4 linked regions of the Homo sapiens genome follow. The protein of the gene in region 3 interacts with the protein of the main gene of each other region in a pairwise test. Each region holds a gene or a part of one and is shown on either strand. Other genes may lie near its edges.

Region 1 (5,160 bases), on a different chromosome or scaffold from region 3:
AGCAGTCAGATGCCCACGTTGGGTGCACAGGCTAAGGCAGCCGGCCCAATCTGGAAACCAGTCAGGCTTTTGCCAGCCCCTAATCTAGCTGATTGGAACATGTTTGTTGATACACCAGCTCTGTGATTTCTCAGGTTTAGAGAACTCTAGAATTTGATAGAGTGGGCCGGGGGCAGTGGCTCATGCCTGTAATCTCAGCACTTTGGGAGGCTGAGGTAAGCAGATCACGTGAGGTCAGGAGGTTGAGACCAGCCTGGCCAACATGGTGAAACCCCGTCTCTACTAAAAATACAAAAATTAGCCAGGCATGGTGGTGCGCGCCTGTAGTCCCACCTACTTGGGAGGCTGAGGAAGGAGAATTGCTTGAACCTAGGAAGTGGAGGTTGCAGTGAGCCAAGATCACGCCACTGCACTCCAGCCTGGAGTGGACAGAGACTCCATCTCAAAAGAAAAAAAAATTAATTAAATTTGATAGAATGATGATGGGGATAGAGTGTAAATTTGCCAAATTTACCCACGCAACAGACATGATTTTACCTAATACATGTGAATTATGAAGAATAAACTGATGAAAATAGTTTGGGAATATAAAACTTAAGAATACTTGCGCCGGGCACGGTGGCTCACACCTGTAATCCCAGCACTTTGGGAGGCCGAGGCAGGTGGATCACGAGGTCAGGAGTTCAAGACTAGCCTGGCCAAGATGGTGAAACCCCATCTCTATTAAAAATACAAAAATTAGCCGGGCGTGGTTGTGGGCGCCTGTAATCCCAGCTACTCAGGAGGCTGAGGCAGAGAATCGCATGAGCCCAGGAAGCGGAGGTTGCAGTGAGCCGAGATTGCGCCACCGCACTCCAGCCTGGGCGACAGAGTGAGACTCCGTCTCAAAAAAAAGAAAAAAAAAAGAATGCTTTCATCAGCAAAACATTGTAACATTCCCTTTACTTGAGGGCGTCCACAATACCGTAAGGTTGCGTGAACTGTCCTACTGAATCTTCATGGTTGCTTGGATTTTAATCACATCAGAAGAATTTGAGAGCATACCATGGCTGGCAGTCCATAAAAGACTAGTTAGGAACATCAGCTTTTAATCATCGACCCTGCTTTCAGGTTTCATTTTAAACTTATAGAAGAGGGGAAGACATCAGTGTGCTTATTTGGCCTTTACTCTAAATCTTAAAAGGAAGAAAATTTTAATATTTCTTAGTTTGAGCCCAGGTGCGGTGTCTCACGCCTGTAATCACAGCACTTTGGGAGGCCAAGGCAGGCGGATCACTTGAGGTCAGGAGTTCAAGACCAGCCTGCCAACGTGGTGAAACCCTGTCTGTACTAAAAATTAAAAAAAAAAAAAAAAATTAGCCGGGCGTGGTGGCAGTCGCCTGTAGTCCCAGCAACTCCAGAGGCTGAGACAGGAGAATCGCTTGAACCCCAGAGGTGGAGGTTGCAGTGAGCTGAGATGGTGCCACTGCACTCCAGCCTGGGCGACAGAGCCAGACTGCATCTTGTGGGTGTAAAAAAAAAATTTGTAGTTTGAGAGTCAACTTTTTCCTCACAGTTTCTGAAAATGTGGCCCTTTTGATGCTGATTAAAGCTGGTTGTGATTTTAACACCTTAGTAGCCAGAATCGAGACTGTCATGGGGACATTTAAAATCTCACCACACTTGACACCATTCACAAGTAGCCATGTGGCTCAGTCTCCTGAGTGCTCCTGCAGAGTGCAGCTCTGCCAGGCTTTTCTCTAGATAATCTCGTGTGTGTTACTGTAGCAGTTTGAGTTTAAACACAAGAGTTCACTCGGTTAACATGTTCTAACCAGCAAGATTTCTGTTGTTTGCAGGTGCCGTGAGCGATGTGGAGATGCAGGAACACTATGATGAGTTTTTTGAGGTGAGAGAACTGAACTCTGTGACTGATAGACCTGTTGATCTTCTGTATCTGTTTGGAAGGATTTAAAATGTTTCTCTGCTAATAAACATACATGAGTTATATCTAATGACACTTTGTAGTGTATAACGAGTCTTAAACCACTGTGGTCTCCCTTCAGGAGGTTTTTACAGAAATGGAGGAGAAGTATGGGGAAGTAGAGGAGATGAACGTCTGTGACAACCTGGGAGACCACCTGGTGGGGAACGTGTACGTCAAGGTAGGAGCCAGGGCGAGACGGCGGCGTGGCCGCTTAGTGTGCCGGGGCCAAGGCCAACAGGCGAAAGCGAGACAGTGGTGCAGCCGCTTAGTGTGCCGGGGCCAAGGCCGACAGAGGATGGGGTGCCTGTCGCCATGCACCTTGAGATCCTGGATGCTCAGGCGCACAGCAGGGCTCAGGTGCACTGGCTCGGCGCCTACCGGCTGCGTCATATGTGGCGGTGGCCAGCCCACACGTGCGCCCAGCCAGCAGAACTGAAGGACGGACCGTACACCACAGCCATCGTTATTTCAGTGTAGAATATTTAGTACCTGTTGGTTTAGAAGCTGTGTGGACTAAGGAAAAGTTAGGTTTACTCACATGTTTGGTTTCTTTTTTCTTTTTTAGTGAATAAAACTTTATTTGCCTACACAGCCATATTTGCTCCTTTAACCAGTTGAATTTGAAAAATGAAGGCAACATTTGGCAAAATCTTGGACTATCTTGAAGTTAATCTCATTGAAAATAAAGGATTTTTCAATTATCCTGTAATACTATTCCACCTTACTATACCTGAGTGTGTATATCTCTCTCTGATACATACTTGGATTGGTAATTGAGAAAGTCTTATTAAAGCGTGGATGGCAAGCACTTCTGTTTTTGTCTTTTCAGTTTCGCCGTGAGGAAGATGCGGAAAAGGCTGTGATTGACTTGAATAACCGTTGGTTTAATGGACAGCCGATCCACGCCGAGCTGTCACCCGTGACGGACTTCAGAGAAGCCTGCTGCCGTCAGTATGAGATGGGGTGAGTGAGGAGTGGCCAGTGACGTGACTGAGCACAGTTCGGGGCCGTGTGCACACGAGGTAGTAAATGTCTCCTTCCAACCCACCCACAGAGAATGCACACGAGGCGGCTTCTGCAACTTCATGCATTTGAAGCCCATTTCCAGAGAGCTGCGGCGGGAGCTGTATGGCCGCCGTCGCAAGAAGTGAGTATTCCTGTGCCCGTTGTTAAGCTCAGTGGCTTCTTTCTCCCCTCACAACCCTCCCCCTTCCAAAAAAAAAATTTTGGCATAGGTGTTGTTTCTGTTTTTTAAAAGGCAGTGCTTAGAACATAGTACATATTTTTAAATATCCAAATGTCCTCTTTGGAGAAGAATATTCACCTGCACACAGGTAACTTCATTATCCAACTTCTCAAGTAGAGATCAGATCTTAGTAATCAAGCAAGAGGGCGGTTAGCTGGGCAGCCGCGGACATGAGGCTCGTGGTGAAAGTGGGCATGCAGTTTATTCTCCCAGATATTACGAAGAAGAAGAATAGATGTTGTAACCTCCTTTAGATCAGGGATGGCTTCCCTGGGACACATTGGAAGAAGAATTGTCTTGGGTCACAAATAAAATACACTAATGATAGCTGATAACTTTTTTTTTAATTGCAAAAAAAATCTCATAATGTTTTAAGCAAGTTGATGAATTTGTGTTGGGCTGCAGGTTGGACAAGCTTTTGCTTTACATATTTCACATGTCCACTGGGGTTTCTTTTGGTTTTGCTTGTTGGTTTTAGGGCATTTCATTATGTCTTGGGATCGCTGGCATCCTCCCTTCGGGACACTGGCAGAATCAGGCCCAGCGGTCACATCTCTCTGATCCTACATTTAAATGTACGACAGGTCACAGAGCAGAGAAAATCAAGACGTCAGAATCGAACCGATTGAGTTCTGAGTCTGGAGAGGTTCTCATCCCTCTTCTGTTAAACATGGACTAGTAAATAGATGGGTGGCGATTGTTTTATTGTCAGCATTCAAGAAGCATAAGAGAAAAACAGGCCTGCTCTCCCCAGCCCAAAAACCTGATGGACACAGTAGCTATGAGCGCCTGAAGCGTGGGGTCAGTGAGGGTTGAAGATGGTATGTGTCCAGCTCATTTTGATTATGATTTCCTGTGACCATTTGAGTTGGTTCTAGAAGAAGACAGAAGATGCAAGGTATTACACCTGTTCACTTCTAAGTTGCACATTTTTTTCTCCTGAAACTTTTCACACCTGAAATCAGGGTGTGTCTCAGTCACGGCGTGCAGTCTCTTCAGCAGTGTTTTTCCTTATCAGTGCCGTTGGCTTGAGGAGCTGCGCGTGTTGAGAGAGTGGGTGTGGTTCTGTGCTGCGTGCCGTGGTTTGGATGGCACGGTTTTCTTTATTTTCCTTGGTTGCAGGCATAGATCAAGATCCCGATCCCGGGAGCGTCGTTCTCGGTCTAGAGACCGTGGTCGTGGCGGTGGCGGTGGCGGTGGTGGAGGTGGCGGCGGACGGGAGCGTGACAGGAGGCGGTCGAGAGATCGTGAAAGATCTGGGCGATTCTGAGCCATGCCATTTTTACCTTATGTCTGCTAGAAAGTGTTGTAGTTGATTGACCAAACCAGTTCATAAGGGGAATTTTTTTTAAAAAACAACAAAAAAAAAAACATACAAAGATGGGTTTCTGAATAAAATTTGTAGTGATAACAGTATTCTTGGTGTAACTTATTTCTTGTGGAAGTTCTTTAAATTTCTTTTTCTTTATAAATCTGCTAGTCATCTTGGAGGTAAAGATTAATATCCATCCACCACTTTGAGTATAAATGAAATAATATTTTTTATCTTAGGGCATGAAATAAAACACATACCAGGTGAGATCTACATGCTAAATAATCCGGAATTTCTCGAGGCTGTCATGGAAAGCCTTTTGGGGTTTCTTTTCTAACTGGTTAGTGAAGAAGTGCTTAGCTATAATCAGTAGACACGCTGTAGACTGCACTGATGTTGGGAAGAAGGCTGATCTGTGGTGAGACACAGTGGGTGGGCCCGACCCATGTTACCTTCTCGTTCCTGCGAGTTTGTGTCAAGAACCCCATGTGTTCGTGGGAGGGAGCGTGGATGCTCACACGGCACACTGAGGGCCAGTAGTCCGTGTCCGTGTTTCCTTATGCCAATGGCTGTGGGAGACACAGAAGCCTGCGGTGCAGATCCGCCTTTAGACACTCTGGTATTACTTTCCCCAAG
Region 2 (6,576 bases), on a different chromosome or scaffold from region 3:
ACCCAGAACTTAAAGTGTATTAAAAATAAATACACAAATAAATAAAGATCGTGTGATAGTTGTCAGTAGCAAAAGAATCCAAATGCTTTCTCCTCCATATCCAGGGAGAGTGTATGTTTCTGTCCCAGCATTCCAGTTTGGAACGCTGAGCGTGTCCCTGACTGGAGCGGCTTACATTCTGTGTCGCTTGTTAATGTTGTGGCCAGGGAGATGGTTTGTGCAGATCAGCTTTTCCAATTATGACGCGTTTTCAGCACTAGGGATGAAATCATTTCCTGAGAAGGACAAGGATGATGTGGCGGATAGACATTAGTAGTAAAACTGGGGAAAGAGGAAGACTGAATGTTGGTTGTTCACTATATGGACAACTGGTCCGAAAGACACTAGCAAGCCCATGGCTGTATTTATTGAAAATTGCTGTTAGTATAATACTAATAAGAAAATATACTAATATATAAATATACTAATATAATACTAATAAGAAAATAATTCCCAGATTACAAACAACAACAAAATTTCAAGGCCAGTATGTTTCTTTTTTTATTATTTTTGTGTTTGACTTAGATGGTTGAAATGTTTTCATTTTTCATTTATAAGCATTACATTAATTTCCATGCAAAAACCCAAGATCGCATATGTCTGATTTCAATTGGCCAAAATCCAACCCTTGAGTTTGGACATTCAAGACCAAAATGAACACGTTACTTGCCCTTTCTATGAGTAGACATCATGGGTGTCCTTTGAAAGATCAGCAGGCCTCCTGACCTCTTAAACACCAGCTTGCCATGAGTCCACACCAAAACAGGGAGCCAATACCTTCCAGCACCTAATCAGGCAAGTAACTTCACTCATGAAGACAGGACACCTCTATACCAAGGCTGCCACCCACAGATATTTCCTGGGTGCTGCTCTATAGCAATACCTGCTTTTGAACAGACGTGGTATCTTCTATTTGGGGATTATAAGTTCTTCCTGCCAGTTTTTCTCAAAACTCTCAGGAAGAGTAGAGATTTTACAAAAAAGCTTACCTCTATGACCCCAAAAGAAATAAATACAAAGACACCTACTTCATCAAGTGTATATTTTCCCCAGCTTTAGATGGGGTCAACATGTATAAAGCTTTAACAACTTCTCTCAGTAAGACAGGAACCAGGAATATCAAAGAGGGCAAAGCAGGACCCCACAACTGAAGGAGAACTAAGCAAATGCAAAGAATCATTTCACTGATAGAAATGGGCAAAATGAAAAAATGATAGAATTTCGAGAGTGGTTGTTAATTTATATTGAAACACACTTTGCAATTCTGACAATGGCAAAGATTAGTGCAAATAATAATTATAATGGTATGTTCTTTAATAGGATTTAAATAAGGCTTCAAATAATTACATATGCTAAAATTAACATTTGGAAACCTTAATTCTGCTTGGAAAACTGTCAAAGACACCCTTCAAACCACCCAGTGTTCTCTGATTTGAGGACAATTACATTCAATGAAGTTGCTCCAAAACACAATTTGTAGTATTATCACTTTCAAAGTTTACATTGTTTGGTGGAAAAGGGGGGAAACTACTCTGGTCACTGGCCAAAATAAATAAATCCAGCTAACATGCCAAGTAGTTCCCAGGTTCATATGATTCTCAAATATCAGTAGTGGTGAAAGCTCATAAGAAAAAAGACAAAAACAAAATAATAAAAATAATAGGATAGAATCGTTAAGCATCAGAAAGAGATTTGTTTCCCCATACCCATGAACAAATTTGCACCAAGTATGAAACAGAAAAAAGCAAGAGGATTCATGGGCATTTTCATCTATGGCTTAAGATCTCCTTAAAAAGAAAAAAAACTCCAACAAACTAAAGAGCATGACAATAACTACAAAAAGTAAACAACGAAATCAGAGGCAGAATATGAAATAGTAATATACTGTTTCAGAGCCTGCACCATCCTGCAGAACCAGGAAACTTAAAATTTGTTCTTAACAAATCCAATCTAGGCTGGATATGTAAAAAACAGAAAGATAGCATCACAAACCACACGACACATTATCAGAGTTTAAGAATCAGGAAAAAAAAAAGTCAGCTAACACTCAGAAAAATTTGTCATCAATTCTGAAATGGGGCCTTGTGACATCGTCAGGATTGATAAAGACAGAGATTGACTTTCCCGGGTTCTCAGTCACTAGCTGCTGCAGTTTTTTTGCCAAACGGTCATCAGGCTGGTTGGGGTCCCCTCCGTCAGACTGTGGAGAGGGGATGCTGGTGGTGCTACCTCGCCTCTGGAGCTCCAGTGTCAGCCGGTTGGCTGCCTTGACATGCTCAATGGCGGTGCGCAAGTGCTCTGCCGGGTCTGAGCGCACAGAGGACAGCTTCCGGGCGTGAAGCATGACTGTCTCCTCAGACAGATGTTCCAGCATGTTGCACTGAGGGATGAAATAATTGGGGCACATCTTGTTGACCAGACAGTGTTGCAGGTCATCGATGAGGCCCAGCAAAAAGTGGGCTGCATAGTCTTCTTGAGCCAAGTAGTTGGCAGGAAGTCTGTCGCAGGCCCAGAGCATCATGCTCCGCAGGTGATAGGGGCTAATAGCCTTGGGCCGGGACAGCAGTTTAATGATGATGGCTTTGCAGGCCTGATAGGCCTGCATGAGGCTGCTGGAGATGCACTTCTTCAACTGCACCTCGCTCCTGGCAAAGGACAGCCGCCATTCATTGTCCTTCTTACCCTTGTAGGAGCAAGCAGGCACCAAGTAAAACCCACTGATGACCTCTTCCTCAGTAATCTTCCCATCCCAAAAGTGGTTCTCCATGAGCCAGCTCTGGGCCACTGCAGGCCAACCTTTGAAAGATACCACAGGGACAATATCATACAACATGCGACTACTCCCTACACCCAGAATGATGGAGATGATGGTCCCATTTTTTTCCACCTTTTCTACCTTTGGCATCCCTCGCTGGGGTTTCTTCTGTATTTCTGATAGGACAATGCTGATAGAGTCATAGAACCAGTCAGCCACTTTGGTAGGTGAGAAGAAGTAGTTGGTGGCACCATTGATGTGATCTACAATGGTGCAGCAGTCTTTCCATTTACTGATTGTCCCCTCATCAAAGAGCCGAAGGCTCAGCCAAGAGTGGCACAAGGCTGAGTGGCGCATGTCGAGTGTCACAGGCTGATTACGGTCATGCAGCTTGAGGGCTGGCACCAAGAGGGTAAAGTCCATATCATAGTCAGTACCCCGGGCATAGACATTAAGCTCATCTAAGTCCAGGTCCACCACGCCTTCCCGGACACCTCCAGAGAGCAACAGGTATTCATTAGCCACTGGAAGCTTTTGGTCCAGCTTTTGCACCATTCCTGGAAATAAAGAAGAAAAAAACAACACTATTACAGGAAACACAGACATAAGAGTCTTATGCATGAAACAGAATGCTCTGATGTTCCAAGAACCAAAACTCATTATCAGTACTAAATCAAATCTCAGGCTGCTGCAGAGACCTGGCCAACAGTACTTTCTCACTAGTGCTAGAATCCACCCTTTTCCAAATGCAAGAATTATGATAGATTTTTCTCTCTCAGTGTGAAAAGCAGTATCGTTTTCAATAATAAAACAGGGCCCCTCTTCCCCCAGTCATCATCTCAGTTAATGGAATTGCCATCCACTCAGTTATGCAGACTGAAAACCTCAGTACATTTCAACTCTTTGCTGCCCTTCTACTGCCAAATCTTTTCCATGGAACCTCTGCCAGGGTTTCTCACTTCCTTCCCTGTTCTCCATCTCTCCTGCCATCATATGAAGTTCGGCCTTTTTTATCTATTGCCTAAGCGGTTTTCTTTCCCCAGGCTCTTTGCGCTTACACTCTTCTTTGTACCAGCGGTTCTCAGTGTGGGCTGGAGACACTTTCAGGGGTAATGAGTTCATAACTCTCTTTATAATAATACTAACACACTGTTTGACTTTTTTTTTAAGAGACAGGGTCTTGCTATGTTGCCCAGGCTGGTCTAAAATTCCTGGCCTCAAGCAATTCTCCTACCTCGGCTTCCCCCAAGTGCTGGGATTACAGGCATGAGCTACCACGCCCAGTCTTGTCTGACTTTTTTACTGTGTTGCCATTGTACTAATGGCACAGAAACAAGGGAGGATAATATTGCCAGTGCCTTAGCAGCAAAGACACTGATGCCAAACTGTACTAGCAGTCAGTAGGTTCTTTACCACTGACATGCATTAGCAATTTTTTTTTAAAAAACCCAGTTTTACTTAAGAAAATCCTTGATGGAGAAGAAAAATAAGTTATTTTATTGAATCTCAACCTCTGAGCCATTAGAAAGACTATCTTCCTAATAGTCTGTGTGATGAAATGGAAATAACCATAAAACCCGTCTTCCTCATACTGAAATAGGAAATCTGTCTTCAGGAAAAGCACTCACGTAACTGAGTTGTGAGCTGAACTAGCCTCTTTGTTCATGGAACGCCATTTTTACTTTAAAGAACAACAGAAAACTATGGCTATTTAGATTTGGGTATTTGGTAGACATTTTCTTCAGAAATGAACAAAATGAGCCTGGCTTCAAGGAAACTACTGACAATATTTATTGCCAATGATAAAGCTGAAATTTCTAAGGGAAAATTAAATTTAGAAAACTCCGCACCATGAGCGTGACATCTTCTCGAATTGTATACGTTTCTGATTAAATTGGCGATGATATTAACAAATGTGATTTTTTAAGAGATTGTGGGTCCTTTTGAGAACCATGTCTCATGTATTAAGCAGGTATAGAAGACTCCGTGCATGCAGTAGGAACATAATTCAAGCTATGACTAAATGATAAGGGAAAAAATGCATGAAATTAATAGGTAGATAGCATTAATAGATGGAATTAACATAAATTCTTAAAGGCTAGACTTAAATGACTGTTCCATAAACAACATATACATTTTCCCTCCTTCATTATATACTTGCTTACGCTTGATTCTCTGACAAACTACCAGCGTCATCCTGTGATTTATTTAACAGTGTTTCCCCAAAGATCAAGACCTACCACAAAGTATTATAATATTCCATTATTCATTATAATTCATAGTTTGCTCTTCATAGGACAATCCCAAATCAAATAAACCATATGCCTGTGTTTTCTTACTATTATTGTTATACTCTGAACGTTCGTGACTCCCACTCACATGTTGAAATCCCAACTTTCAATGTGATAGTATTAGGAGCTGGGGCCTGTGGTAGGTGATCAGGCGTGAGAGTGGAACCCTCATGAGTGGGATTGGTACCCTTATAAAAGAAACCTCAGAGCGCTTCTTTACCCCTTCTGCCATGTGAGGACACAGTGAGAAGACAGCCATCTATGAACCAGGAAGCTGTCCCTCACCAGACAATGAATCTGCAGGCACCTTGATCTTGGCTTTCTTGACATCCAGAATGGTGAGAAATAAATCCCTGCTGTTTATAAGCTACTCAGTTTAGGTACTTTGACATAACAGCCTGAATGAACTAAGACAATTATACTTTAAAATTTAACGCTCATTTATTAAAATATGCTCTTTAAAATCCTATTTTCCAAACCACATTAACCATGAAAAAGTCTTTTATTTAGTACAATTCTTTACACACAGAAATATGGCAAGTTATCATTTTCTTTTTAAAACCGTAAGTTAGCCAACATTATAGTGTCAACAATTCATCAGAAAGAACATCCAACAAACCTGACTTCTTGGCTGTTTCTCACACTATCTGCACTGTGATACGGCATCCAGGTCCCTCTTCAATAAAGGACTTCCAGCTGCTTAAATGCTAGCCCTTAAGGATTGTCTCAGCTGCAAAGGGCTGTCTTAGCCAGGTCAGGTCCTGTGGCTGGGATGGGGGTTGCAGGTGCACATCCAATAACTGATCGGTGTGGGAGTGTCCCAGCTCAGGATACTCTGAAGGGCCACTCAAACTCTGAGTTCCCAGTGGGGTTGGCTGTGGCGAATGATGCGCCTGCAGGGAAGCTCAGCTTCTCCTACTTGAACCTGCTTCCTTCCCCACTTCGACAGGTGTAGATCCCAAGGGTGCTGCTTCATAAACATCCTAACTCCATTTCAGAGGCTGCGTCCTGAGAAACCCAACATACTACACTAAATACTATCCAAGCAAAACAGAAGATACTACCTACTACCCAAACAAAAACCGTCTTCAGCATGGAAAATATGTTTTTCCTTTTTAAAGTGTTTTCTTTTTTAAAGCCAAACTTAATCCGGATTGAAAGTTCTTATAAATGCCAAGACAAAGATCCATTTCTCAAATGTCATTATGTTTTAATATTAACCTCATCTTTGCCATGTAAAGAAATACTACCATCCCACGTTTTGGTTATTGCTTTAAAGGATAAAATTGATTTCTCAGATTCCAGATTAGGTTGTGAAAATCATTTTCATTATTTTATGAACTCACATGTTGGAACAGTCAGTTTCAGTGAGATATATTTGATAATGAAATCGTTTACTCTTCATTATTTCAAACATCCTTTCATTCTACCATTCAGAATACCATAAATATACGTGAGAAGTACTGTGAAATGCTGTGTTGTGGTTAGTAA
Region 3 (6,994 bases):
GAATCCTGAGCTTCTGGTTTGGGCAACAGGATGAGGGACTGTTTTACTATCTATATTTCTACCCATATGAGATAGCAAGTATAAAAAGGGCTGATTTGGGGTAAAAAACTTTTATATCAGATATGTTGAGTTTGAGGTGCCTATAGGACATCAAGATGCAAATGTCTAGTAGATAGCTGTCTTGAGCCACATCAAAGTTAAGAAGAGAAAACTGGGACTGCAGATTTGAGTCATGAGTAAACAGGCTAGTTAAAACAGGCTAGTTGGATGTGATTGCTTGGGGCAAGCATACTAAGTAAGCAAGAAGTGGGCCAAGGATGAAACTCTGGGGAACACTTATATTTTAGGAGCAGGCTAAGAATAAAGATCCAGTGAAGTTGATGGGAAAAGAACAGTCTAATAAGAGAGCTGGAAAACTAGAAGAGAGTAGTTATTACAGCTAAGGGAACAGAGAGTTTCACAAAAAAGGGAGTTTACAGTGATGCAATTGTCAATAGCCAGTTTATGAACTGTTTGCCAGTCCACAAGAAGACTAAAGAGCTTGGACCACAATGTAAATTAACTGCTTCCTTCATTAACAAAATCAAGAAAAAAAAAGAACAGCTGAACAAAACAGTGTATCCTGTGACATAAATGATTGAGGCAGCGCATAACAATACACAACAGAGTGACCAGCAGATATACAGCATTCACTCTTATTTTTGGTGAACAAATGAGACCTTAAAACCTACTGGACTTTTTATAAGCTTGGGAAACTGAAAACAAACAAGGAAAAAAAGAACCTACTGGACTTTAATAAACCCAACATGCCTAATTTTACAATTAGAATTTTCTTTCTTTCTTTTTAAATATAGATGGGGTCTCACTTTGTTGCCTATGCTGGTCTTGAATTCCTGGCCTCTCAAAGTGCTGGAATTATAGGTATGAGCCACCATACCTGGCCCTTAAAATTTTCATGGTGGAACTCTTTTGCACTCTTTGATCAAACTCCTTTGTTTCTTCCACTTCTATTAAAAAAAAAAAAAAACTTTACTGGAGTATGACATATAAAAAGCTGTACATATTTAATGTATACAACCTGAGTTTGGTGACAAGTATATCCCTGTGAAACCATCATCACAATCTACACTATAAACATATCCATCACCTCCAAAAGTTTCCTCCTACCCTAATAAATTTTTCTATTTATCTTCATTTAATATAGTTCCTTTATCCTTAGTTAATAAAGAATGCTAGAGGTCACCCCCTCTCCCCATAAAGTGTTAACTATCTAGAAAGGTCTGCTAATCAAAAACATTTCATTCTTCTCCTCTATCCTGGGAAAAGTATAAAACAGATCAAAGAGGCCAACAATATTTGGTACATTTTACATAACACTTTACACAGATGAGAAGAATGTAGGTTCTAAGCCTATAACTGCTTTACTGAATTTCTCATAGCGGACTTGCAAAAGTTATTCTCTGTGGATTTCTTTTTTCTTGTAAGAAAGCTGATACATTGAAATTTATAAAGCGAAATGTCAAAAGTTCCAGTAAAAAATTATGATTTCTCAGGTATATTTGTCTCTAAATATAAACAGCAAATAAGCAAGCACCTGAATTCCATCTAATCTCTTCATTCTTGTAAAAATAGTAACAGCTGACCCCCTAAGTATGCAGAGAAAGGAAATGTCTGTGTTTGGTGTCAAAAGTTATTGAGCCAACCAAATACAAGAAACCTCTCCCTCCCACAGTTGCAACCACACAAACACAAACTGGTGCAGTGGAAAAAAAATCACTGGGTTAATCAGGTGTTCCAGATCCTAGTTCTGGTACAACATTTAACTAGCTGTGTAACTCTTGGCAAATTTGTTTCCTCATTTATAAAATGAGGAGATGGGGCTGGATGATTACCAAAGAGCTTTCAAGGTGTATCTGTGTTATTAAAATTTCATGGGGGAGTTATTAAGAAAAAATGTTTAATAAGACTCCTTAGGAAGGTAACAGTGAAAAAAAAGTTGAGAATCACTGGTCTAGAAGTGAGAGTATATAGCAGTATCTCATCACCTCAACTCGTTCTAAAAACAAATAAAAGCTTAGTTATTTTCACAAGTTTCTATGTAGGGGCAATCAACATTTTATTGAGCACCTCCTCTCTGTAGTGGACACAGTGATAGATGCCTACGTTGTTTCAAATCCTTTATCTTCACTATTTCACTTAATCCTCACAATTAAGTCAATCATCCTTAATTTACAGATTAGAAGACTGAGGGTCAGATATTACAAATATTTTGTGCAAGGTCTTAAGGCTAAAAGTGACTGCTCGAATAACTAGAATCCAGGTTTGACTCCAAAGCTGATTCTTTCTACTTCACTCTTTTGCTTTTCATTACTATGATATTCACCAAAGTATTACAACTGGTAGACCTGTAATTATGTAAAACACTAAACTTCAACGAGTTTAGTCATCAAAAAGACACTAGATTATTAGGTAATTTTTTTAAAGATCTATCTTAAGTAAACGGGGAGGCTTCTTTGTACAGAAAAGTAGAGTTCAGAAGCCGTGATCCCTGGGATCCGAAAAGACAAAAAACCAGAATCAGCTGAAGGAAGTACTGAGGAATTTTGACATTAGTCTTCGCATATTATGGATTTGCATTCTGGCCGACAAAGATTCTCTAGGCCACCGGTCTCCTCGCTGTTGCAGAATAAACGCTGAGGACCCGCTGCGTCAGCGAGCTGCTCAGCAGAGAAAGGCGAGACCACCAGGGCTTTAGGCCTAGAGAAGCGGAGGCTGTCCTAGGGATCTCAGAGACACCATCACTTTCACTTCCAGCAGCCTCTGGGAAGGCGGTCCCTGTGGGCCTAATCCCTCCCCGGGTCTGTTTACTCACTTTTTTGATATTGGATTTGGAGGCAGGATGAAAGTCTTTCTTGCACATGAAGTTGGCGAAGGATTTCCCCATCTTGGAACTGGAACTAGGGAAAGCAGGGGCTAGATCTGTTAGCAACGTAAACAAACTCAGCCGCCTAACCGGAACTGCGTTTCCAGCAGCAAGGGGGAACTTCCGAGATCAAAGGTGACAGCTTCCGGCAACTGATGCCTCCACTGGCCACTCCTCCCTCCGTCCACCTGTCACTTCGGGTAGCTGGGAGGCCAGGTGAGGGGCGCGCACGGGGGAGGGGCGTGCATAGTTGAGACAGAAACCCGGAAGACCCAACTGTGGCGCGGCACTGCTTGACCGAGGGGCTCCGGAGCCCAGCTGCACCGGCTGCGGTTTGAGCGCCCAGGGCCGGGGTGCGGGGTGGACCGCGGCGGCCCTTCGACCAAAGGTGCTTGAAGCTCGAGCCCATTACTTTCTGTGGACTCTGACTCGAGCTGCAAAAGCTTTTCTGCACTGTTTTTCTCATCTATGTTATGAAGATAATAATTCCGGCCCTAACCGTAGTATGCTTGCGAGAATCCAACAATATGATGTTTCTGAAAGCGCCGGCTGAACTAAGAGCGCGTGAAATAGAATGACAGACAGCTCTGCAAGAACGGAGGCCCTGTCTATTTTGTACCCAGCTGTACGGTACTGGCGCCGAAAGACGTTCAATAAATACTTATTGAATGACGAATACGCGTTAGGAGTTGGTAAAATCTCTCAAGGCTTCACCTCCTCAGTGGGCTAGGTGCAATTCTAACCAGGGGGCAAGTTTCCTTAGCTTTCCCTACGACCCCAGTTAGGCAGCTCAGGTTACTATTGCAGCTTGATGGCCCTTGGGACTCCAGGTTTTTGAGTGGACGTGGCTGCTACTGCAGCAGGTGATCCACCAACCAAGTTCTCTATCAGGGTAATGTTAAGAATAAACCTTGGCCGGGCGCGGTAGCTCACGCCTGTAATCCCAGCACTTTGGGAGGCCAAGGTGGGTGGATCACCTGAGGTCAGGAGTTCAAGACCAGCCTGGCCAACATGGTGAAACCCCGTCTCTACTAAAAACACGAAAAATTAGCCGGGTGTGGTGGCACGCGCCTGTAATCCCAGCTACTCGGGAGGTTGAGGCAGGAGAATCACTTGAACGCGGGAGGCGGAGGTTGCAGTGAGCCAAGACTGCTCCATTGCACTCCAGCCCGGGCAACAAGAGTTAAACTCCATCAAAAAAAAAAAACAAAAAACGAATAAGCCTTTATGAGAAATTTTCTCTCCTACCAAATAATAACAATAACAGCTTTCATGTGAGTATCTACTATGTTCTATGCACTGTGCAAAACACTTTACGTGTTGCCTTATTAAGTTCTCATAACAGCCCATCAAATAGTGTCTTATTTTTCTGATGAGGCAGAAGGCATAGGTAAGAGAGAGATTAAATAGTCTGCCAAAGTTATATAGTGATAGAACTAACTATAAAACACAAATAGAAGGAGATCCAGGACATAAGAGTTGAAATACAGAAAGAAAATAACAGAAGCCATCAAGACATCAGACTTCTCGTCACTGAGGAGAAGAGGAAAACCCTTAAGAGTTTCAGTCTGAAGTTTTTATTTAGTCATTTTCTTTTCTTTTTAAGGAAACATTTATTATATTTAAATTTTGTTTTTAAGTTGCTAGCATCTGCCTGTGTAAAGCCATTTTAAGGTTTTGCCATTATTAAAGGAAAGAAGGAAACTCTGTAAAACAATGTGTCTGTTCTGGCAGCAAAATAAGGACCTTTAGGTGTTCTATTATAAGTGAAGATCTAAGATTTTCCAAGTTACAACTGAAGAGGTAATCTAGATATTAAAGTATATAATTGCGATTTATAAATTAAATATGTGAACTTTCTCCTAGAAATATCAGCAATTTGGAATTATATTGACATATTTTTGTCTGAATCAATGAGTCTGTTTCAAAATTTCAGTCTCATCAGAATTATAATGTGTATTATTTCCCAGCTCAAATAAGACCCCTTCTTCCTTCCTTTGAGGAAGTACTGGGCACGTAAGATTTTTTTCCATAAGACAAGTTCCAGCAAAGAGAATATAAAGATTAGTAAGACATACTCCCAGCCCTCAAGGATCTCATTGTCCAGTAAAGGGATTTATATATACACGAATGTAATGGAATCTAGCCTTTACAACAATAGAGCTAGGTACACGGATTCCCAAATATGGAAATGGTGAAACGAAATTCAGGGAAGACTTTAGGAGAGAAAGGTCTTAGAGAATAAATGTGAACTATACAGTAGAAGAAGGTAGTTCTCATTGCCATTTTCTTACTGAGTTGTAGTACCAGATTGAGTCCCAAGTCATATTCTTACTGATTTTTAGGCTGTAGTATACAAAATTTAAAACTTTAATGAACAGCCAAGCACGGTCACTCATGCCTGTAATCCCAGGGCTTTGGGAGGCAGAAGGGGGAGGATCTCCTGAGCCCAGGAGTTCCAGGCTGCAGTAAGCCCTGATCATACAACTGCACTCCAGCCTGGGTGAAAGAGCTAGACCTTGTCTCCAAAAAATAAAAATAAAAAAATCAAAGCTTTAATGAACATCCTTAATTAGATATGGCAATAATATCCTTTGGTCATTGAGTAAAACTCTTTATTTTTATATACTTAAAAGTGTTCTTTTTATTTTAAAACATCTGTATAATTTTTAGTTAAAAAAAATGGAACCTTTTTCCTGTGACACTTTCGTGGCATTACCTCCAGCAACAGTCGATAACAGGATTATTTTTGGAAAAAATTCAGATAGACTCTATGATGAAGTACAAGAGGTGGTTTATTTTCCTGCTGTAGTTCATGATAACCTGGGAGAACGTCTTAAGGTAGGTGAAATAAATGTTTTGTTAGCAATATGCCTTTTAAAAATATCATAAAGTTATTTCTATACATAGCAATTTGGAAGAAACTGTAGAAGTTAAAATTGAGGAGTTTACATTTGAAAAATAAATGAGTCAGAAATAAACTGTGATCTTTTATTTCAGTGATTCGGAGGACGTTGAAATAACAATAATAAAATTATCCATTGTTTGAATAAATATTTGAATGCTTTCCATATGCAAGCATGTTAGATAGGGCAAGAGATTTAAAGTCAGCTGTCAAGACTCTGTTCCAGGAGCTTAGAGTCTAGTATAGCAATAAGATGTGTATGCATTATACCCCATTATAAAATAGGATGGTTTAAATGCTAAATTTAAGTAACAGTAGCATGCTGTGGCAGCGGAAGAGAATGAACATTTAATTCAGCTTGGAGTTAGCTGGAATTTGATGGACAAAAAGGATTCTGATTCTGAATTGGCTTAGGTTCTACTTGATGTAGAATAGGAAAGTCATCCCAGACTTTAGGAATGACAGTTTTATGACACATCAAAAAAGGTTTATTAGGCCCTATGTTAACACTATCAATATACATTTTATGCAGTCACTTGGTAGTATACACATTAATTAAAGGATCCTTTAAAAACTTATTTTAAAAACCCATTTAATGTGGAACTTAAAATGAGAGCTTCAAATTATGCTATTGTTGCTAATTCATACTTTTTAGATTTTATTTTATTGATATTCTAATATTAAAACATATTAAATATTAGACTTTTTTCTGTATCCTATGCCATATTTTTTTCTTTTGCTAAGACCACTTATTCATCTGTGATACCACTTCCACTTTATTTCTTCATATTTAAATATAGCCTGTCCTGTAAACCAGTGGTTCTCATTCTTTTCATTGCTGTGGGCATACCTAATGGTTGACTTCAAAATGTGATGTGAGATTCCTATGACAAAACTCTTGTATTCGAAGGCTACCATGTGAGTAATTATATCACTAATCAAGAAACACTGGATATTGAGGTTGAGAACTACTTCCTTAAGCTTCAACTCACACATCTACAAAAATGTTTCAAGATATTACAGCTAGAGACCATCTTTCTCCTGAGCTCCAATAGCACCTTGTCTTCACTTCATGACCCTAATACTTTATACTTTATTTTATCTTAATGTAGAAGTTTTAGTTTCTCAAAAGTGAGATCTTTATCTGATTCATCTTTGTAACTAAC
Region 4 (6,837 bases), on a different chromosome or scaffold from region 3:
GTCTCAAAAAAAAAAAAGAGGCCCTTAACTCACTTACTATATTCCATCATCTCTCACCTGGCAGAATTTTTTCCCCCAGTCCTTCATTCTTGACGCCTTCCAAATAATTTTCTAACACTGTTGGCAGAGTGACACTATGAAAAGTTTCAGTGGTTTATTGCTCTTAACATAAAAGTAATTGTCTTTAACATTACCTACCAGCCTCTTATCTCCTATTTCACACTGCTCTCCCTGACCAAGCTCCAGCCACATAATTCCTTTCCTTTCCAAAGTTGTTACATTCCTCAGCCCCAACCTCCACCCTACTTCTATTTACACTTTAAAATCTTACACCTTAAAAATCTTACTCTTCTTTTAAAAGTCTCACCTCAAGTGCTATTTAACCTGGTCCTTCCAGACCAATCTACTAAATACTACCTCATTTCTACCACTTGTTAATTGCAATTACATTGGTTTGTGTGATTTCTTTTTCATCATAGGCACTCAATAAATATTGGTTCATTGAATTAAAGGAAGCAAAGTGGGAGTGGGGAAAAGTTGTTTAATCCAGAGACAGTAACATATATTGAGCCTCTGTCTCATACTAGGCATTGGCTTTGATATGCTCCTCACTTTCATTTTTTTAAAAAATATTTATTTATTAAAGAAAAGGTCTTGCCCTGTCACACAGGCTGGAGTGCAGTGACAGGACCATAGCTCACTCCAAGCTCTACCTCCCGGGTTCAAGTGATCTTTTGCCTCAGCCTCCTGAGCAGGTGGGACTACAGGATAATTTTTTGTAGAGGTGAGGTCTCCCTATGTCTCCCCCCACTGATCTCAATCTTCTAGCCTCAAGCAATCTTCCCGCCTTGGCTCCCCAAAGAGTTGGGATTAAAGGCGCGAGCCACTGCGCCCAAGGGTTCCCTATTTTCTTTTTCTCTGAGAGGAGTCTCGCTCTGTCACCCCGGCTGTAGTGCAGTGGTCCAATCTCGGCTCACTGCAACTTCCATCTCCCCGGTTTAAGCAATTCTCTGCCTCAGCCTCCCCACTAGCTGGAATTACAGGCGCCTGCCACCACACCCGGCTGAATTTTTCTATTTTTAGTAGAGATGGGGGTTTCACCATGTTGGCCAGGCTGGTCTCAAACTCCTGGCCTCAAGTGATCCGCCCACCTCAGCCTCCCAAAGTGCTGGGATTACAGGCGTGTGCCACTGTGCCTGGCCTTGGCCTTCCTTTTTTCATTCATTTAATTCTCATAGCAATCTGGCAACAATTACTTCTCAGACACAGAAGCTGAGAATCAGAGGTAACATAAAGACACAGATTAGGGGTACATTAGATATAAATTAAAATTTAAATATAAAGGCTAGGCTCCGTGGCTCACGCCTGTAATCCCGGCACTTTGGGAGGCCGAGGTGGGCTGACCGATTGAGGTCAGGAGTTCGAGACCAGCCTGGCTAACATATCGAAACTCAGTCACTACCAAAAATACAAAAACTACCTGGGCGTGGTGGTGCGTGCCTGCAATCCCAGCTAATCGAGAGGCTGAGTCAGGAGAATCGCTTGAACCCGGGAAGCAGAGGCTGCAGTGAGCCGAGATCGGCTACTGCACACCACTCTGGGCGACAGAGTCAAACTCATTAAAAAAAAAAAATTAATATAATAAAATTTCTCCTAAATCTAAATCCTTTTCTTCACTTTCAGGGTGGATTACTGGACAAATTAACATTTGTATGGCATTTTTACATCTCTATAGCAGTTCTACATTTTGATTTGAAATTTATATTTGCATAAACCTTACAAAAAGTACTCACTTTGGACCTCACAAAAGACTTAAAACCGAGACAGTTAAAAATGACCCAGTTCAAGTCAAGAGGACCTGAGAGCGCTCGGATATGGCCGTTCAGTGCCTGTGCAACGTCTTAAATCCTCTCTTCCTTCAGTTTCTGTCTGCATTGTTCCCAATGTCTGGCTTCTGATTACTCCTAGGTCCTAAGGACGCTGGGAAAAGGGGACGAATTCATTCTCAGCACCCTCGGTTTAGGATCTGTGTCCGTCTAAAGGAAATTAAGGGGTTTCATTCTTTTCCAAACTCAGCTCAATTACCTCTTCCTAAAATCTTTCCTTTAACACCCTTTTCTCCTGTTACCATTTCCCTCTAGCCCCCATATTCAGTTAGTTCTTTCTGACAGGACTAAGCACCTCTTCAAAACAGAAAACCCGGGCCGGGAGCAGCGGCGGGCGCCTGCAGTCCCAGTAGCACTTTGGTAAGCCGAGGTGGGAGGATCGTTTGAGCCTGGGCGGTTACAGTGAATAGTGATGGTGCCACTGCACTCCAGCCAGGGAGACAAAAGTGAAACCCTGTTCCAAAACACAAACCTGAAAACCTAATTTTTTAACTTTTTCTTTTGAGGTGGAGTTTCGCTCTGGTTGCCCAAGCTGGGGGTGCAATGGGGCGATCTCGGCTCACCGCAACCCCCGACTCCCGGGTTCAAGCGATTCTCCTGCCTCAGCCTCCCGAGTAGCTGGGATTACAGGTGTGCGCCACCACACCTGGCTAATTTTGTACTTTTAGTAGAGACGGGGTTTCTCCATTTTGGTCAGGCTGGTCTCGAACTCCCGACCTCAGGTGATCCGCCCGCCTCGGCTGCCCAAAGTGCTGGGATTACAGGCGTGAGCCACCGCGCCCGGCCTCTTTTTTTTTTTTCCCCATCTTTTGACACACTCAACCTCCTCAACTAAACCTAGAAAACCTCATTTCTTACTTGTCTGCTCACTCCAATATACCAGGCTGCAATCATATTCTTGGGCCTTACTCTTAAAATAAAAAAAAAAAAAGTCAAGAGGAGAAAATTCGAAGGCACATTCTTTTCTCCTTAAAGGAAAAATCAGGAGTGCCCAGGGAAGACAGAAACACAAAGACAGACAGAAAACAAATCCACTAAAACTGTACTGACCTCCTTGCCTTTTGCCTTCTCCATACTTGTAGAAGAAGCGGAGCCTCGCAACATGCTTCCAAAATGGCCCCTGCCCCAAGATTGCTATTTGCAAAGTCTCCTCCCACTTCCTGCCGCCCGAAGACCCTTTTTCTCTCCACCTCACCTCTTCTTTTCTTCTCCCCTTCTGTTCCCTCCCCCACAATTTGTAAATGCTAAAATTGCATTCTTTCTTATTCATGGGGTGACTTTTGTCTGGGTTGAATTACTAATACTATTCCTGGCCCTTTTCTGTTCACTTTAAATGTAATTATCCAAAGTATGGTTCCGGAGACATTGGGAGATTGAGCACTCCTTCAGAACGATTCTACGGGGAAAAAAAACAAAAAACAAAAAACAAAAAAACAGTGGCCAGAGACTTGAGCAGGATGTGTGAAGGGATTTAATAATGGAACTTGTGGCAACAGTAGACTTCAGAGACCAGACTGGCGGCTTGAAGAAAGCTATTTTCTCGTACCAAATACATTCCATTTCCTAAGTAAGTTACTCAACCAACTAAAACTCCAGGTTTCTCTGTACTAATACCGAGCATCTTTTCATCTGCCAACGAACTAATAATAGTAGCTTTTAAAGTCTATAGAGTATTTGTTATTTATTTTGTAGAGGGCAAGTGGGGGGGTCTGGCTATTTTGACCTGGCTGGTCTCGAACTCCTGCCCTCAAGTAATTCTCCAGCCTTGTCCTCCCAAAGTGTTGGGATTACAGGCGTGAGCCACCACTCCCCGCCCGAGTATTTTTTTATATCTCAAATTGTGAGTTTTAAATTCAGTCATTATTGTTCCCCATTTTATATATGACTAAAGTTGGTATAAATTTTTATTGGTAACTTTTTCAATAGCACAGTAAGTGAACCCCTAACCTACTGACTCCCAAAGAAGTTCAAGTTTTTCTCCTTAAAATAATTTGAAAAATCTTTCCTCAGATCAGTGCTCCCTGTCAGATTGTCAAGAGATGTGAAGTGAAGGAAGCAGTGGCTGTGCGACTGAAACCCTCCCTTGTCAGGGTCCAAAGTCTCTTTTGTTCTTTGGTTTACTTTGTTGTTTTTTTTTCCTACATCTCATTGCTTGTCCTAAAATGATAAATAAGAGACTGTCTTTATCCAAATGGTGTTAGTAATCTGCTCACAGGCTAGAAATCCACGGACAGAAAAAGTAAGTAAACGGAGCCCAGGAATAGAGAAGGAAGTGCAGGTTGTGGACTGGGCAACCCCCAAGGCGGCAAAGAGGAAACCAGGTGAGTTGAGGTCATCTGGGAGATATTAGGGCTTTGATTTAACAATTCTTTACCACAGCCTTTGGTAACCACCAGTAGGACTTTCTAATTAAGGTTTGTGTATAAAGTGTATAACTGAATCATCTTTCTTTTGTCAGTGTAATTGAACGTAACATTCAGAATAACTGGAGTTCTGGGCTGGGCATGGTGGCTCACGCCTGTAATCTCAGCACTTTGGGGGGCTGAGGTGGGCAGGTCACTTGAGTTCAGGAGTTTTGAGACCAGCCTGGCCAACAATGGCAGAACCCCTTCTCTACTAAAAATGCAAAAATTAGCCGGGCATGGTGCGTGCCTGTAATCCCAGCTACCAAGGAGGTTGAGGCAGGAGAATTGCTTGAGCTGGAGAGGCAGAGGTTGCAGTGAGTCAAGATCGTGCCATTGCACTCCAGCCTGGGTGACAGTGTGAGACTCCATCTCAAAATAAAACATAAAATAAAAATAAAACATAAAAACACAGACACCAAATCCAGGCCAGATTGATTCATTTTTAAATGTAAGGCTTTAGCAGCTAGCCAGACAGGATTTAAACCCAACCTCCCCTTCACTAGCTGTGTGACCTGGGCAATAACGTTAGGTCTCTTTGTTTTCTCATCCATGAAATGAGAGTCATGAAAATAATAGCCTTTACTTAGAGGGTTGTGGGCATGTCTGGAGAAAACAGTGTCTGGAGAAAACAGTGGCTGGCACAGCACATGTTGGGATCAGAAGAGCAGGGCGTGGTGGCTCATGCCAGTAATCCCAGCACTTTGGGAGGCAGGAGAATCGCTTGAGCTCATGAGTTCAAGACCAGCCTGGGCAATATAGTGAAACCCCATTTCTACCAAAAATACAAAAAATTACCAGGCGTGGTGGCGCAGGGGTGCCAGCTACTCGAGAGGCTGAGGTGGGAGGATCGCTTGAGTCCAAGAGGTGGAGGTTGCAGTGTGATCATGCCGCTGTACTCCAGTCTGGGTGACATAGTGAGACCTTGTTTCAAGAAAAAGACAAAAAAAAAAAAAAAAAAAGAGTTGGAGAGGAATGAATTTGAGAGATTTAGGGGTATTCTGGTTGGGTTTTCTTTTATTTTTCCTTTTCCTTTTTTTTTTTTTAAGAGGTCTCCCTATATTGCCCAGGCTGGTCCCAGGTGAAACTCCTGGTCTCACATGATCCTCCAGCTGTAGCCTCCCGAGTAGCTGGGACTAAAGGCCAGCACCCCTAAGCCCAGCTTTTTCTTTTCGCTTTCTTTTTTTATAAAAAGTTTTTTAATTGTGTAAAATGAACTGAATTAATGAGTCCTTTAGTTTACCCGGAGGCAGTGAGTCTTCCAAAGTCATTAATCTGCATCTGCAGAAAACAAACCAGCATTGATTCATATGTAACACTGTTTCCTAACAGAATGGAGAGAGGGGGCAGGAGGTGTGGCTGTGGGGGAGGGAGGGAACCCTTGTCTGTGTCTCTCTGCTGTGTATTCCAGAAGCGCTGAGTCAAAAGCTGGGTTTATTTAATATCTATATAGAGTTCCCCAATTTATAACAGTGCATGAAAATACCTCTTTCCCCATGTCCAAGAGTCTAGTATTTTAACAAGTACACTAGTACTTGACACACCTAATTTATAATAATTCTACCTTGTAGTATCTCCTATAGTGGATAATCATTGCCGTTTTAGTGGTTATTTTACTGTAGGAAAAGGTGAGTCAGTTAAAATTAAATTTAGGGAGTAAGGCAGATCATGAGGTTAATTAATAACTTTTGTTTAAAAAGGGAAAAGTTGGAGGTAGATGATAGATCTGGTTATCATCAAAAACAAGAAAACCCAAACCTATTTGCTTATAAACAATTTCCCTCCCTCCCTCATTTCCTCCCTTCCTTCATATCTTATTTTTATTTTTTATTTGAGACAGAGTCTCGCTCTGTAGTCCAGGCTGGAGTGCAGTGGCGCAATCTCAGCTCACTGCAACCTATGCCTCCTGGGTTTTTAAGCGATTCTCGTGCCTCAGCTTCCCAAATAGCTGGGATTACAGGCGCCAGCCACCACGCCCGGCTAATTTTTTTTTTTTTTTTTTAATTTTTTTTTTTGAGACAGAGTTTCGCTCTTGTTGCCCAGGCTGGAGTGCAATGGCGAGATATTGGCTCACCGCAACCTCCGCCTCCCGGGTTCAAGCGATTCTCCTGCTTCAGCTTCCCGAGTAGCTGGGCTTACAGGCATGTGCCACCACGCCCCCTAATTTTTTGTATTTTTAGTAGAGACGGGGTTTCACCTTTAGCCAGGATGGTCTCGATTTCCTGACCTCAAGTGACCCGCCCGCCTTGGCCTCCCAAAGTGCTGGGATTACAGGCGTGAGCCATCATGCCCAGCCCTCCTTCATATCTTTTTTTGTTTGTTTTTTTTTTTTTGAGACGGAGTGTCGCTCTGTCGCCCAGGCTGGAGTGCAGTGACGCGATCTGGGCTCACCGCAAGCTCCGCCTCCCGGGTTCACGCCATTCTCCTGCCTCAGCCTCCCTAGTAGCTGGGACTGCAGGCGCCCGCCACCACGCCTGGCTAATTTTTTGTATTTTTTAGTAGAAACGGGGTTTCACCGTGTTAGCCAGGATGGTCTCCATCTCCTGACC

Evidence for each region.
Region 1: the proteins of CIRSR (region 3) and splicing factor U2AF 35 kDa subunit-like protein interact in binary tests that used the Homo sapiens proteins (3 or more experiments, as listed by UniProt).
Region 2: the proteins of CIRSR (region 3) and MB21D2 interact in binary tests that used the Homo sapiens proteins (3 or more experiments, as listed by UniProt).
Region 4: the proteins of CIRSR (region 3) and DPPA4 interact in binary tests that used the Homo sapiens proteins (3 or more experiments, as listed by UniProt).

What each region holds. Positions count from the first base shown.
Region 1 is NC_000021.9:6,484,091-6,489,250, reverse strand, and holds the end of splicing factor U2AF 35 kDa subunit-like protein, read left to right. Parts: intron 1-1,838; coding exon 1,839-1,888; intron 1,889-2,045; coding exon 2,046-2,144; intron 2,145-2,795; coding exon 2,796-2,929; intron 2,930-3,020; coding exon 3,021-3,113; intron 3,114-4,334; coding exon 4,335-4,482; 3' UTR 4,483-4,628; downstream 4,629-5,160. UniProt on the Homo sapiens protein: Plays a critical role in both constitutive and enhancer-dependent splicing by mediating protein-protein interactions and protein-RNA interactions required for accurate 3'-splice site selection. Recruits U2 snRNP to the branch point.
Region 2 is NC_000003.12:192,796,300-192,802,875, forward strand, and holds the end of MB21D2 (nucleotidyltransferase MB21D2), read right to left. Parts: intron 3,352-6,576; coding exon 2,087-3,351; 3' UTR 516-2,086; downstream 1-515. UniProt on the Homo sapiens protein: Probable nucleotidyltransferase that catalyzes the formation of cyclic dinucleotide second messenger in response to some unknown stimulus.
Region 3 is NC_000002.12:174,392,679-174,399,672, forward strand, and holds the start of CIRSR (corepressor interacting with RBPJ 1), read right to left. Parts: upstream 3,035-6,994; 5' UTR 2,945-3,034; coding exon 2,873-2,944; intron 1-2,872. Other genes in the region: SCRN3 (secernin-3), read left to right, coding at 3,498-3,548, 5,597-5,764. UniProt on the Homo sapiens protein: May modulate splice site selection during alternative splicing of pre-mRNAs. Regulates transcription and acts as corepressor for RBPJ. Recruits RBPJ to the Sin3-histone deacetylase complex (HDAC). Required for RBPJ-mediated repression of transcription.
Region 4 is NC_000003.12:109,334,528-109,341,364, forward strand, and holds the start of DPPA4 (developmental pluripotency-associated protein 4), read right to left. Parts: upstream 3,020-6,837; 5' UTR 2,991-3,019; coding exon 2,937-2,990; intron 2,181-2,936; exon of another isoform or gene 1,794-2,180; intron 1-1,793. UniProt on the Homo sapiens protein: May be involved in the maintenance of active epigenetic status of target genes. May inhibit differentiation of embryonic cells into a primitive ectoderm lineage.